Regions from separate parts of the Homo sapiens genome. Here region 2 is linked to region 1. Evidence: fine-mapped expression QTL. Tissue or cell type: whole blood. Region 1 holds a variant in brackets; the other region holds the start of a gene. All regions are shown on one strand. Distances are from middle to middle.

Region 1 (8,000 bases):
TGCATATAGAAGAGCACACCTCGGTTCTAGAAAAATGACAGATTTAAATATGCTGCAGCCTTGGATTATTGCATGTATGTGTATGTGTGTGTGTGTGTGTATGTGTGTGTGTGCGTGTCTGTGTGTGTGTGCGTGTGTGTGTGCGCGTGCGTGCGTGTGTGTATGTGTGTGTGTGCGTGTGGAGGACACTGGCAAAGAAGAATCAGAAAACCATGTTCCCTCTATGTCCCTCTGGTTGATAAACTGGCTTAAAATGAGTTTAGACCCATATTTGAGGAAGGCAAGGAGAACAAAGAGGGAGCTTGAAGGGGGTTTAACAAATGAATTATTACAGCACCAGTATGGATTACATGAAAAATTTCAATAATGAATTTCATTCATTCACTTGTTCAACAATTATTTCTGTAAGGTACTCAGCAAGTGCCTGGCACTGAGTCAGCATCCACTAGACAAAAGCCATTGATATTTATTTGAAAAAGTATATAGATGGAAGGCAATCTGTTTTTTGTCTTCATGGACATTAGGATGAGACATAACAGGCTTAATAAGACTTAATAAGAGGGATATAATAAAAGGAGCTTTTTGAGAGCAAAATTTTAACCCAAAGCACCATGTAAGACCAGAATGTGCCTATTTGGAGATTGTTAAAAATATATATGCAGGAACAGCATTAGTAAAGTCTTTTTTTTTCTTTTTTGAGACAGAGTTTCACTCTTGTTGCCCAGGCTGGAGTGCAATGGCGTGATCCCGGCTTACCGCAACCTCCTCCTTCCGGGTTCAAGCGATTCTCCTGCCTCAGGCTCCCGAGGCATTACAGGCATGCGCCACCACACCCAGCTAATTTTGCATTTTTAGTAGAGACGGGGTTTCTCCATGTTGGCCAGGCTGGTCTTGAACTCCCAACCTCAGGTGATCCGCCCGCCTCAGCCTCCCAAAGTGTTGGGATTACAGGCGTGAGCCACTGCGCTCAGCCAGTAAAGTCTTATCTAATAAATTATGCTAATGTATTTAAAGGCTCTTTTTAAAGCAATATAGAACTTTTATACATTGTGACCTATACAGAAAAATGCATAAATGTAAAGTTTAACAAATTGTTGTAAACAAACATTCAAATAACTCTACCAGGGTAAAGAAGTGGAACATAACTCATTCCCGAAGCCCTTGGCATGCCCTTTCTAGATCACAGCCCTCTTTGCCCACTACTGCTAACCACATCTAGACTTGTATGGTATTAACTTCCTTTTGCTGTAGTTTTGCTACCTAATAACACAGTTTTATTGGGCTGCTTGTGAACTTCATACAAATAGAATCACACTGTTTTCTGTATCTTGCTTCTTCTTTCAACGTTGTATCATGAAGATTCATCCATGTTGAGTTCATCTTTAGTTGATTTCCACTGTTGCACACTCTTGTTGAATGATGACATCATTGTTCACCTATTCTAGTACTGATGGACAGCGGGATCATTTCCAGCTTGGGGTTATTACATGTAATGACGTTTGAATATTTTTGTCCGTGTATCTCAGCACACGTAAACACGTGTTTCTGGCTTGGTTTTGTTTTTTAACCTAGAAATAACGTTGCTGAGCTACAAGGAACATGTGTATCTTGGTCGTGAATATGCCAAACTGTTTTCCTAAATGATTGGACCCCATTTACACTCCCCTGGCGGTAATGAGTTTCCTGTTACTCCACATCCCCTGATAACTCTTGGTATCATCAGATTATTTTTATCGATATGGTGGGTGGATAGTTGTATCTCATTGTGGTTTTAACTTACACTTCCTGGTTGCTAGTGAGGTTAGACGCCTTTTCATGTTATTTTGGCTATTTGGATTTCCTCTTTAGTGAAGGGCCTGATCAAGTCTTTTGAGTATTTTCTCATAGGATTGTCTGTCCTTTTCTTACTAACGTATAGGAAGTTTTTAGTCTGCTGTTCATGAGCTGCAAATATCTTTTCCTATTCTGTGGTTTGCTCTTTCATTCTTTTTTTGAGGTCTACACCTCCAGTTTAAACCTCTGCGTTCTCACTTAAACCTGATTTCAGTTTTGTCTTTTGTTTTTTTGAGACAGAGTTTCACTGTGTCACCCAGGCTGAAGTGCAATGGTGCGATCACAGCTCACTGTAGCCTCGAACTCCAGAGCTCGAGCAATCCTCCTGCCTCAGCCTACTAAATAGCTGGGACTATAGGTGCATACCACCACACTCAGCTAATTTTTAATTGATTTTTAGTGTTTTTGTAGAGACTGGGATTCACGGTGTTGTCCAGGCCAGTCTTAAACTCCTGGGCTCAAGCGATCCTCCCACCTCGGTTTCCCAAAGTGCTGGACTTAATCCTGATTTAAAGGAGTATCTCTGCAACAAAGTTCCATCCACACCCCAGACTGCAACAAAGTTCGTTATAAAATGCTTTTCAAAAGTATTTATGAGTAATTAGTGAGTTTCAATGGAACTGTAATCCATTTTTTAAAAGTTTTTAGGACACTCCCTGGTAGTCTAGTGGTTAGGATTCCGCGCTCGCCATCACGACCCGGGTTCGATTCCTGGTCAGGGAAGCCTTCCTTCTGGCTGGGCGCTGTGGCTCACGCCTGTAATCCTAGCATTCTGGGGGGCTGAGGCGGGCAGATCACCTGAGGTTAGGAGTTCAACACCAGCCTGGCCATGGTGAAACCCCGTCTCTACTAAAAATACAAAAAATTAGCCAGGCGTGGTGGTGCATGCCTGTAATCCCAGCTACTCAGGAGGCTGAGACAGGAGAATCGCTTGAACCCGGGAGGTGGAGGTTGCAGTGAACTGAGATCGTGCCATTGCACTCCAGCCTGGGCAACAAAAGCGAAACTCCGTCTCAAAAAAAAAAAAAAAAAAAGGTTTTAGGTCGTTCAAAAGAACTTTCAATTTTGACGTAATTATAGATTCACAGGAATTTGCCAAGACAGGAACATCTCTCATGCGGTTTCTGGGTTCCATTCTCCAGTACAATGGCAAAGCAGGAAATTGACATTGGCACAGTGTGCGTGTGTAGTTGTTTGTCCCTTTATCACACATGTGGAGTTGTATAACAACCAGCACAATAAAATCAGAACTATCCATCACCACAGAGATCTCCTTCCACTATTCCTTTCTAGTTAGGTCCTCTACCTCTCCCCACCATCCCCTGGCAACCACTTATCTGTCTTTCATCTCTATACTTTTGTTATTTAAGGAATATGGTATAAATAGAATCATATGGTATGTGTCAAGCTAAATCATAGATAGAGAGAGCCTCTCTAAAAGATTATATTTTTTCAGGAGTAGCATTGCAGTGGGAATACGGTGGGTGTATTCAGG[G/A]ATGTAAAGGTGATGCGAGTTTTTAAAAGAAAAAATGAGGGGCGGGGCACAGTGGCTCATGCCTATAATCCCAGCGCTTTGGGAGGCTGAGGCGGATGGATCACCTGAGGTCAGGAGTTCGAGACCAGCCTGGCCAACATGGTGAAACCCCATCTCTACTAAAAATACAAAAAGTTAGCCCTGCATGGTGGCACGTGCCTGTAATCCCAGATACTTGGGAGGCTGAGGCACAAGAATTACTTGAACCTGGGAGGCGGAGGTTGCAGTGAGCTGATATCGCATCCTGCACTTCACTCCAGCCTGGGCGACAGAGCAAGACTCTGTCTCAAAAAAAAAAAAAAAAAAAAAGGAAAAAGAAAAAAAAGAAAAACTGAGGAGGGTTATGTAAGTTATTTTGAAACAATTATCCTTTGCTACAAAGATCAATACCGGCAGAAGTATTTTTTTGTTAAGATACAGTAGCCTTGGTGCAAGGTTGTGGTTTCTGCCATCTTTTGTGATAGTTGTTTTTATCAGGCATGCATGCATAAGAAACCCCCTTCACGGCCTTCCCTGGCTCCATTTGTCAGGGTTTTTGTTTGTTTGTTTGTTTTTTGGTTTTTTGTTGTTATTGTTGTTGTTTGTTTTTGAGACAGGATCTCCCTGTGTCATTCAGGCTGGAGTGCAGTGGCGTGATCTCCACTCGCTGCAACCTCCGCCTCCTGGGTTCCAGCGATTTTCGTGCCTCAGCCTCCTGAGTAGCTGGGATTACAGGCAGCTGCCACCATGCCCGGCTATAGTAGAGACGGGGTTTTGCCACGTTGGCCAGGCTGGTCTTGAACTCCTGGCCTCATGTGATCTGCCTGCCTCAGTCTCCCAAAGTGCTGGGATTACAGGCATGAGCCACCATGCCCGGCCCATTTGTCAGGGTTTTGACACAAGTTACTCCATTTTGATTCTGACAACTTTCACAAACGTGAACTTTTTTTAAGATTTTGCTTTTTCACTCAGCACAATGCCCTTGATATCCATCCAAGTTGCTGTGTGTTTCAATGGTTAATTCTTTTTCCTTGCTGAATAGTATTCCACGATATGCTTGTGCCACAGTTTGTTTTACCATGCACCCATTAAAAGATATTTTGTTTGCTTCCTGTTTTGACTATTACATATAAAGCTGCGAGGAATAATTATGTACAGGTTTTGTGTGGACATGTATTTTTGTATCTCTATGATAAATGCTCAGGAGTGCAATTGCTGGGCTATATGTTTGGTGCTTGTTTAGTTTTTAAGAAGTTGTCGAACTATTTTCCAGAGGAAGTGTATCATTTTACATTCTCATCGGAGTTTCTCTGCATCCTTGCTTGCATTTTGCATTGCCACAATTTTTATTTCAGCTGTTCTAATAGGTATGTAGTGACATCTCATTGGGGCTTTAATTTGCACTTCCCTTATGGGTGGACATCTTTTCATGTGCTTATTTTCCATCTTTATATCTTCTTCAGTGAAGTGTTGTTCAGGTCTTTCACCTATTTTCTAGTTGGATTATTTGTTTGTTTTACTGTTGAGATTCAAGAGTTCTTCGTATTTCCCAGATAGGAGTCCTTTGGCATATATATGGTTTATAAATATTTTCTCCCAGTCAGTAGCTTGCCTTTTCATCCTCTTCTCAGGCTCTTCCACAGAGAAAAGCTATTTAATTTTGCTGAAGTCCAGTTTATGGATTTTTTCATTTATGGAGTCATGTCTAAGAATTCTTCACTGAGTCCTGGGTCTCAAAGATTTAGGGTTTTTTTTTTTCCTCTATCTCTTATAACTTTTACAGTTTTCTATTTCATATTTAAATCTTGATTTTTTTTTTCTGAGACAGGGTCTCTGCTTTGTCACCCAGGCTGGAGTGCAGTGGTGTGATCATGGCTTACTGCAGCCTCCACCTCCTGGGCTCAAGTGATCCTCCCTCCTTGGCCTCCCAAGTAGCTGGGACTACAGGAGTGTGCCAGCACTTGCTGTGGACCTATTGGACTGAACAAAGGGGGGCAAAAGCGGGAATAAAAGACGAGACAAAAGAGTATATTTGGAAGAAGGGGTCAGGGGGCACCTTGCCTCTAGTGGACAAGGGCCCTGAGCTTTACACAGCCCTCCGTATTTATTAGGCAAAAGAGATAGTGAGAAAGCGGGGATGATTGTCGGGTAATTGTCAGTTAGCCGTTTGGTGTTTGGTTCACAGCAGGCTTGTGAGACTGCATCCTTTGAACAATAGGTGCTAGATTTCTCAATAGATAACTTCAAGGAGCCAGGGAGTAGCGTCCCTCAGCAAACTTTTTGGTGGCAGGGCAGTGTGAGTTTGCTCACATCTTGCATTCGTGATGAACACTTTGCTGTTTGATCATATAGCCTCCAGTGGAATGTTGAGTTGGTCACGTCTCACGGGCTTTGGCTCTCTGCATGCCTGGGTAATTTTTTTTTTTATTTTGAGACAGAGTCTCACCATGTTGCTCAGGCTGGTCTTGAACTCCTGGCCTTAAACAATCCTCCTGCCTTGGCCTCCCAAAGTGCTGGGATTACAGGTGTGAGCCACTGTGCCCATGCTTGATTCGTTTTAAATTTTTCGTATAAGGTGTGAGAGGTTTTAGCCAAGTTTTTTGTTGTTGTTTTTGTTGTTGGACTATGGACGTCCAATTGCTCTAGCACCACTAGTGGAAAACATTAGTCATCCTTCATTGTACCTTTGTCAAAGTCAGTTGGCTGCAATTACGTGGGGCTATCTGGTTTCCCTCTTCTGTTCCATTGATCCATGTGTTTCTTCTTCTGCCAATACCACACAGCCTTGATTACTGTAGTTATACATAAATACTGAAATTGGGTAGAGGGTGGTAGTCTCTCCCACTTTATTATTTCATTTCAAAATTGTTTTATCTATTCTAGTTCCTTTGCATTTCCACATACATTTTAGGATAATATCTATATCTACAAAAAGCCGGCTGGGATTCTGATAACAATTGTGTTAAATCTGCATATCAGTTTCGGGCAAATTGACATCTTTACTATGTGAAGTACAGTCACATATCACTTAATGACAGGGGTAGTTCTGAGAAATGTGTTGTTAAGTGATTTCGTTGTTGTGTGAACATCATAGAGGGCACTTATGCAAACCTAGATGGTACAGCCTACTATACACCTAGGCTGGATGGTATAGCCTATCCCTCCTATACTACAAACCTGTCAGGCATGTGACTGTACCGAATACCATAGGCAACTGTAACATAATGGTATTTGTGTAGCTAAACATATCTAAACATAGAAGAGGTACCGTGAAAATAATATGATCTTTGCCAGGCGCAGTGGCTCATGTCTGTAATCCCAACACTTTGGGAGACCAAGGTGGGCAGATCACCTGAGGTCAGGAGTTCGAGACTAGCCTGGCCAACATGGTGAAACCCTGTTTCTACTAAAAATACAAAAATTAGCCGGGTGTGGTGGCGCATGCCTGTAATTCCAGCCACTTGGGAGGCTGAGGTGGGAGAATCCCTTGAACCTGACAGGCAGAGGTTGCAGTGAGCCGAGATCGCATCACTGCACTCCTGGCTGGGCAACAGAGTGAGACGCCATTAGAAACCAGGCCACCCAGCAGGAGGAGAGTGGTGGGCAAGCACGTGAAGCTTCCTCTGTATTTATAGCCCCTCCCCATGACTTGCATTACCGCCTTATCTCCATCTCCCATCAGATCAGCAGCGGCATTAGATTCTCATAGGAGCATGAATCCTATTGTGAACTGCGCATACGAGGGATCGAGGTTGCACGCTCCTTATGAGAATCCAGTACCTGATGATCTGTCACTGTTCCCCATCACCCCCAGATGGGACTGTCTAGTTGTAGGAAAACAAGCTCAGGGCTCCCACTGATTCTACATTACAGGGAGTTGTATAATTATTTCATTATATATTACAAAGTAATAATAATAGAAATAAAGTGCACAATAAATGTAATGTGCTTGAATCATCCTGAAACCATCCCCCCACCCACCCAGTCCGTGGAAAAATTGTCTTCCACAAAACTGGTCCCTCTTGCCAAAAAGGTTGGGGACCTCTGCTGTATATCACTGTAGTCTTATAAACACTGTACACTTAAGCTAACCTAAATTTATTTAAAATGTTCTCTTTCTTCAATAATAAATTAACCTTAGCTTACTGTGACTTTTTACTTCATAAACTTTAATTTTTTTTTTTTTGAGGCAGGGTCTTGCTGCCCAGGCTGGAATGCAGTGGCGAGATCTTGGCTCACTGCAGCCTGCACCTCCCAGGTTCAAGTGATTCTCCTGCCTCAGCCCCCCAAGTAGCTGGGACTACAGGCAGCTGCCACCACGCCTGGCTAATTTTTGTATTAGAGATGGGGTTTCACCATGTTGGCTAGGCTGGTCTCGAACTCCTGAGCTCCGGTAATCTGCCCACCTCGGCCTCCCAAAGTGCTGGGATTACAGGCATGAGCCACCGCACCCAGCCTATAAACTTAAAAAAAATTTTTTTTAACTTTTTGACTCTTTTGTAATAACTCTTAGCTTAAAACACAAGCACATTGTACAGCTGTACAAAAATATTTTCTCTTTATTTCCTTATTCTATAAGCTTTTATCTATTTAAAAGTTTTTAAATTGCTTTTTACTTTTTAAACTTTTTTTGTGAAAAACTAAGACACGAACA
Region 2 (8,132 bases), 160 kb after region 1:
CCCAATTTCAAAACTTACTACAAAGCTACAGTAATCAAAACAGTGTGATACTGGCATAAGGACAAACATATAGACTGATGGAATAGAACTGAGAGTCTAGAAGTCAACCTAAGCATCTATGGCCAATTGATTTTTGACAAGAGTGCGAAGGCCATCCAACAGTCTTTTCAATAAACAGTGCTGGGCCAATTGAAGAGCCAACATGCAAAAGAATGAAGTTGAATCCCCACCTCACCCTATATACAAAAAGTAACTCAAAATGGATCAATAATCTAAGTGTAAGAGCTAAAGCCATAAAACTCTTAGAAGAAAACATAAGGGTAAATCTTCATTACTTTGGATTTGACTGTGGATTCTTATATACCAAAATCAAGAACAACAAAAGGAAAAACAGATACATTGGACTTCATAAAAATTAAAAACTTTTGTGCATCAAAGAACATTATCAGGCCAGGTGCGGTGGCTCATGCCTATATTCCCAGCACTTTGGGAGGCCCAGGCAGGTGGATCACCTGAGATCAGGAGTTTGAGACCAGCCTGACCAAAATGGTGAACCACTGTCTCTACTAAAAATACAAAAAATTAGCCGGGCAAGGTGGCGGGCGCCTGTAATCCCAGCTACTCTGGGGGCTGAGGCAGGAGAATCACTTGAACCTGGGGCTTGGAGGCTGCAGTGAGCTGAGATTGCACCACTGCACTCCAGCCTCGGCAACAGAGCAAAACTCCGTCTCAAAAAAAATAAATAAAAATAAAAAAAATAAAAAAAATGTAAAAGACAAGCCACAGAATGGGAGAAAGTATTTGCAAATCACATGTCTGATAAAGAAAGATTTAATATCCAGAATACATAAAAAACTCTCACAACTCAAACAACCCAATTAAAAAATGGGCAAAGCCTGAACAGACATTTCTTCAAAGACATACAAATGGCCAATAAGCACATGAAAAGATGCTTAACATCACTAATCATTAGAGAAACGCAAATGAAAACCCAAAGAGCTCAGTAGGATGGTTATAATCAAAATGGAAAACAAGTGTTGGCAAGGATGTGGAGAAACAGGAACTCTTGGACATTGCTGGTGGGAAAATAAAATGGTGCAGCTATTGTGGAAAACAATTTGGCAGTTCCTCGTAAAATTAAACATACAGCTACTATGACCTAGCAATGCTACTCCTAGGTATACATTCAAGAGAAATGAAAGCCTATGTCTAAACAAAATCTTTCCTGTGAATATTTATAACAGCATTATTCATAATTGCTGAAAGGTGGAAACAACTCGAAGACTCATTAACAAATGGATGGCTCAACAAATTGTGTATACACATACAATGGAATATTACTCAACCGTAAAAAGGAACACGGTACAACACGTTACAACTTGAATGAATGCAAAAAACTTTGTGCTAAGTGAAAGAAGGCAGATGCAAAAGGCCACACATTGTATGATTCCTTTTATATGACATACCCAGAACAGGCAAATCCACAGAAAGAGAGAGCTGATTAGAGGTAACCAGAGAATGGGAGGAAGGGGAAATAGTGAATGATTACTAAATGGGCATGAGGTGTTCTGGGGTGATGAAAAAGTTCTGAAAATGGAAAGAGGTAATGGTTGCAAAATATTATCAATATACTAAATAACACTCAATTATATACAGTTTAAAATGTTTAGTTGTATGTTATGGTAATTTTGCCTCAATAAAAAAACAACTCTCCTTAAAATTCCTTTGGCTAAAAAAAAAAATCCAATTTGATTTTGTAAGTAAACAGAATTTCCAGGCAGGACAGAATTACAATGGGTTTCTTACTGTGAAAATCTAAAATTGTATAAGTTCATGAACAAAACCATCAGATCAAAACATTACTATATTATTTAACAACAGTATCTGACATAACTTTAACTGTTTTTTCAGGGCAGCTAAATGCAGAAAGACCGAAATATATTTGTCGGACAGTGACGGCTTTTAGGAATGTGGAAACACTAGTCTGAATTTCTCAATCTTCTGCTGTGGTTCTCCACATACGGCGCAGAACAAAAGATGGAGGTCCTCTAGCTCAAGAATTCTACAAACAGAGATTTGCTGAGCTAATGGAGTTTGACAGTATCTACTTTGTGTGTGTCAATGGACAACCATTAGAGATGAATTCTACAGAGAGGCTTGCTCAGGCTGGACAATTAGTAAGAAGACAAAGCATTTTGATAAAAAAATCTGATCAGAAGAACTGGTCTTGGCTTGAGCAATCTAAAGACCTAATCCTTAACATTGTATTATCCGATTTTATAAAGTGCTTCTTGGGGAATGCACTCAGGGAGTGATGTTCATGTTTTAGGCATATGATTTTTTATTTCTCCTGAGCTAAATGTTATGAGCAGGTTTCTATCACAGGAAAACAAGCGTGAAACCTAGAAAGTCTGACTTTTGCTTAGATTAGATCTTCCAGCACAGCAGGGAGCAAAGTTTCGTTACAATTATGATACAGTCAGAATTTGCTTTACATTCACACTTTGATGATACTTTTTCTAAACAGATTTCCAGAGTACTCATATTTGTTTAAAATTCATATTTCCAACATTTCAGAGCAATACCTCATCTACTTGATTTTGTGTCTGCTGAAGTCTTCGATTACTGCCAGTGGCAGCAGTTGGACCTGTAGACCTGGAACATGTAAAGGCATGAGCATGAGTACATTACGATTCCAAATACATTTTCTTAAGTATAAAGATGTTACTCCGGGACTCTCACTGTTAACAATCTCTTACATTAGAACTAAAACAGAAAAAGAAATTCTTCCTGAAGCAATGAACGAAAGTTTTAATTGCATTTCTTCTAATTTCTCTATAATTTCCAAGACTGTCCCACCTACTAAAGGGACAAATGTTAAGCTTTAATAGGACCTACTTTGTATCCCTGAAGTATCTGATCCCACGATAGGTAAGCTCTACTGTCCTTTTTTGAAACTTGTTCTAAGGCACACATCTGCTTGAATGTACTCAGTACTTTCCTGATCTTTTCATTGTGGAAGGAACTGTTTTCATAGTTACAAACAGTTACAGAATGCCCTTTTTCCAATATGGAAAAATAGATTAATTTACAGAAACAGAGTCAGGAACACTGGGATGCAGGGAGTGGGTGGTGTGAGTGGAAAGGTGTGTTGAAGAAATGCCTCCTCTTTTAGGAAGGTACTCTTTCTTTTTCCCCCTCTTTTGAGAGACGGAGTTTCGCTCCTGTTGCCCGGGCTGGAGTGCAATGGCGCGATCTCGGCTCACTGTAACCTCCGCTTCCTGGGTCCAAGCAATTCTCTTGCCTCAGTCTCCCAAGCAGCTGGGATTACAGGCATGTGCCACCACGCCCGGCTAATTTTGTATTTTTTAGTAGAGACGGGGTTTCACCATGTTGGTCAAGCTGGTCTCGAACTCCTGACCTCAAGTGATCCGTCCACCTCGGCCTCCCAAAGTGCTGGGATTACAGGCATGAGCCACCGCGCCCGGCCCAGGAAGGTACTCATCTTTTAAAATCTTCATCAAAGGCTTTATTTCTCCCCATGCAGATCTTTCTTAACCACTCTGACTCTGAAGTCATTATTGGCTCCATTACTTGGAAAGTATCACTTTGGTTTTTCAGGTATAAAGTCCCGCCTCCTCGAATAGATCACAGGTTCCTGGGTCTTCTTACTCTCTTCTCTGTATCCTAGATAGCACCTAGCATGTGCCTTGGTATACAACAGTCTGATGGGCTGTTTGAACAGTCACTTTACATCTGTCATGTGTCAATGACCAGGGCTACAACAGATCTCATCACCGTCCTCACGGAGTTTAGTATCTGGTAGATAAGTAAGGACCATGCCGTGGCGCTAGACTCTTTCCATGCTTTTCCTCCTTTAACCCTCATAACTCTCTGAGGGGAATATTACTCCTATTTTACAAATGAGTAAAGTGAGGTTTAGAGAGTCAACACAGCTGGCTGCAGGACAGCTTGTTTTTAGATCAGGTCCTGTGTACCTTGGCTCTAGATCTTAACCACTGTGATCTATTGGCACAGCAGCCTCAGCAGGAACATTCGAGGGGGGTCCCCAGCTCCTGGAAGAAACCCGGGGCTTCCTCCGACGGTGAGCAATGAGCAGAATGGAGGTGGAAGAGGGAGTCCTTGTGATTCTTAACCATTAGCATTCTCTGAGTCTTACCACTGGAAGCAGGGGTTTGCAACGTGCTTTCGCTTAAGAGAGCGAAGGCCCACGGTTAAGTGATCTTTCCAGTGCAGATGCCCCTAGCTAGGCAAGGAGCTCTTCGGCCCACAGGGGCTCAGGACAGGGCCGAGGTCCTTTCTTTCGCAACTTCTGGGGCCCAGCGCAGCACCGGGCCGAGAGCGGGCGCTCCCGAACCAGGGCTGTCGTCCCCATTCCTCTCAGGGACGTCGGGGACTAGAAAGGGAAGGGGCGAGGAGCGGGCTGCGGGCGGGCAGCTCACTTCCTCCGGGAAGCGTCTCGCCGCCCCGCCCTTGCCCCTTCCGCGTCCGCCCGATGGCCGCGGGACCCGCCCGGCCCGTCTGCAGCCCGCGACCCAAGGGCCACCGCCCACCCCCAGGCCTCGGGATCCCCGCGCAGCCCCGGCCTGCGTCCGAGTGGCGGCCGGCGGCAACTGGGCAGTATGGCGGTCCCAGCGCGAGCTGCCGCCTGCGGGGCCCGAAGCCGCCCGCGTCGCGTAGCGTCACTCACATTTTGGCAGCTGCGGCGGCGGCAGCGGCGACGAGAGAGGGTCAGCAGAGAAGCGAAGTTGGGACCGGAGGCCAGGGAGATGGGTGGGACGGCGCGGCGCGGGGCAAAGACGTCACTAGGCGGAGCCGGGGGAGTGGGCGGGGCGAAGAGGGGGCGCGCCGGAAGTGGGCGGGGGCGTCGTGGGTGGGTGCGTCCAGGGCGGGGTCAGAGCGAGACGTCCCCTCCCCGGACGAGGTCACTTGGGAACTTGAGGGCCACAGGGGTCCCAGGGCGGTCCGGGCTCTGAAACGCAGAACGCAGGTCAATACAGCTCCCTGTCCGCACCGCCGTCCGCGCTGGCGCTTGGGGACGTGGTCTGTAAACGTGGTGCATTAGCCACTGGCGAGGGACTGCGTGGATAAGTGAGGGTGGGGGCAATTCATGTTATTCTGGGCTCGGGACCATTTCTAACAGTATTAGAGACAGATGACTGGCTTCTGCTGAGTGTTCCAGAGTAACCTAGTGATCCTGAGGGCACCATGTTTCTCTAAAGTAGTTGAAATAGGAAGTCCATTTCGGGTATTTGTCACATGGTGTTGGGTGAGGTTCCCGCTCATGTTTTCATCGGTGACACAAATATTTGTCACTGCAGATCATATTATAATCTGCTTACGAGAGCCTTGGCATCAAGGCTGTAGTTCCTTTATTTCTGTATTTTCAGGCCCTAGCACAGAATAGGTCCTCAGGTTTTGGTCGAAGGGAGGGAAGCACAAATCTGAACGCAGTGAGTTACCTTGTATATATTTGTTACTGAAATATTCCTACCAACATAGTTACCTACACCAAAAAATAAAACACTAATAGGTCATTGGTGGGTCTCTTAGATGAGAAGTGAAAAATACAGTACTTAAATACTATGCTGTTTTTTCCAACTCTAAATAGAATACTTTGAAAAGGGAAACGTTAGTATATATCGAATAAACGAGTGTCACAAAGGCGGTGGGATTTGAGCTGGGTACTAGTGGAAAAGAACTTTCCAAGTAAGGGTTGGGCAAACACCATGAACAAAGACAGCAGTGAAAATGGACGCAGTGTGCACAGACCACCTAGAGGGTGCAGGTTGGGTACAAGTGAAAAGAAGACTGAATAAAGAGGATAAACAAACAAGAAAAATGTCATTTAATTGTAGTGGGCCCTGGAAACCATTGACTTACGGACGTGGGAGATCCATGATGCAAAATTTCTCTGGCAGTAGTGGCCAGATGGATTAGATGGAAGAGGGAGCACTAGGGAGATAAGGAGAGGCTCTGCAGTGAACGGGAAGGGAGCGGCGATGACACAATACTCAGAAAGGACGACGTTCGTAATCTGCTGGAAAATGCCTTTTAGAAGACTTTAGAGGATTGTAACTGAAAAGGTGAATTAAATTAATGTCTTTATCTTTCAAATAATTGCACTGCCTTACACAAATGATTGACATGTTGAGAGGTGCCTGGAAAGATAGGGGAAAAGCTCTCTGAATGGTGGCTGGAAGACATTTTTTCTTTCATGGACCTAGCTGAAACAATGTAACATTCAATGTCAAAACATTACATCTGGATCAGAAGGAAATCCTTGACATTATTACATATGTTTTGAAACATGTGCCCATCACCTTAGATTTCACTACCCGGTCATATTAAAGCAAAACACACACGTAGTATGGGGAAATTTTCTTCATTTTTAATTTACAGCAGAAAGAATATAAAGCATTCAGAAAACATTTTCCATATTTTAAGGGCAATTCAAAACATTTTGCATGGTTTCCAGCAGCTGAGTTCTTCAACAGATCCATTGATTCAATGATGCTTTACATGCACAATTACAAAAATAAAACTTACAAAAAAAGAAGACATCTAGACTAGTTTTACATGCAAGTCTCAGGGACCCCCCATTGGGCGCCAACTACTGTGTGGAACTGCCATAAGCGACCGTGCAGCCAGAGAGGGGTTCGTATTATTGTCTTTATTTCGTTCACACAGTACAGCTGATTTCGAATGGGTAACAATAGCAATTAAATCTTCAGGAGATAGAATAAGATTAGCTATTAATTTTATAATGAAATCCTACTCCTGGCACTTGGGAATTCAGATTATCCAAGAAAGCTGCGCTTACCTATCATCTTATATTCGAAATTAAGATTCATAACCAAGAAAAAGCGGTCAGAAATGCTTCGTTTCAGTGGAAGTGCATTTTTGCCTCGCCTAGGATTCACAGTTGTACTGGTAGGTTACACTGGTAGGCTTTAAACCTACTTCCTATCCCCTCCATGAGAACCCTCTTAATTCTATGGAAGTCTCTACCATCTGTCATTTTCTAACGTATTCAGCTAATAATGTAACATGTGAAACATTAAAAAAAAAATGTGAGGGTTAAAGCAAATCCACTGAGGTCATTACTCTGGTTAAAACATCAGTTATTTGTACCATAATAAATGGAATAAAGATATCTAAATTCAGTATTAATAGAGGATATTCTGAAAGAGCTGGCTTTCACGTTCTATTCCCATTTATGAATGCAGTTGTGTTTGTAAATTACTCAGTGTCCTCCTATAGGTCAAATTGTGTAAAATAATAGGTATCTGGGGGACTGCAACAGCTGCAACATAACCCACACATTTAAAAACAAAATGGAGTCAGGTCAGTTTACAAATGTACAGGTGGCTACTAGTTGTGGGGCTGTCACTGTTGTCAAAGCTGATCACAAGCAGAAAGACATATACTGTACAGTAATTCGAGGTTGGCAGTGAAAGGAAGTAATTAAAAAACAAGTACAATTATAGAAAAGGCACCAAGAGCACTGACCCCAGTTTTTACCACAATCTTTTTGTATCTACCTTCCTTCCAAAGACACCAGTTTAAAAGCTTATTTGTGAATATTTTTAGGCTTCACAACAAGCCTTGAGTTTTAACTCACAGTTGGCAGCCAGAACCAAGAAAAAACATCTCAGCTTTACACCAACTGATCCTCAGACGTAACCTGGGAATTTTAAACTGGCATCAGCAAATACGAACTTTATTCTCTCAATTTAACATTAGCAGTTTAATTGTTAAAAACATCAGATTTCTTTGGCTCCTCATTATGTGGAAATAGTAATATACCATGCCGTCTCTAAAAGACCAGTCTGCATCTTTTTCATTTTTTTTTTTGTGCAATTTTATTATATTTTCTGATTTCCAGCAGGAGATATGGAAACGTGACATTTTTCTACTTTTCATACTATTTCTTTTGTCAGGTTTTTTTTTTTTTTTTTTATCATTCTAAGTGTTCTTTGTTGGAGTGAGTGGATGGTGTTAAGCTACATACTGATTCATCTTATGATTATCTGTTTTGCAAAAGTAACTTAATTTTCTTAAGCAGTATTAGCATTCACATTACTTGGCACCATTGGCAAAAAAATTTT

The links. PIP is the estimated chance that this variant, and not a neighbour inherited with it, causes the effect.
Region 2: VAMP3 starts here. The variant in region 1 is fine-mapped to the expression of VAMP3 in whole blood (TOPMed, PIP above 0.99).

The regions. Positions count from the first base shown.
Region 1 is chr1:7,924,835-7,932,834 of GRCh38, reverse strand. All of the region lies in intron 7 of TNFRSF9 (TNF receptor superfamily member 9), which reads left to right. It also overlaps the pseudogene TRUND-NNN4-1. Among named protein-coding and RNA genes, the nearest start is that of TNFRSF9, 12 kb to the left of the region's middle. The variant G/A (reference allele first, on the strand shown) is at 3,329.
Region 2 is chr1:7,767,965-7,776,096 of GRCh38, reverse strand. VAMP3 (vesicle associated membrane protein 3) reads right to left here and starts at 4,801. Exons shown (of 5, transcript NM_004781.4): 1 at 4,712-4,801; 2 at 2,586-2,655. The coding sequence starts at 4,713. CAMTA1 (calmodulin binding transcription activator 1) reads right to left here. Exons shown (of 23, transcript NM_015215.4): 23 at 6,391-8,132. RefSeq lists silencers at 4,438-4,667, 4,632-4,874 and enhancers at 5,108-5,157, 4,901-5,597.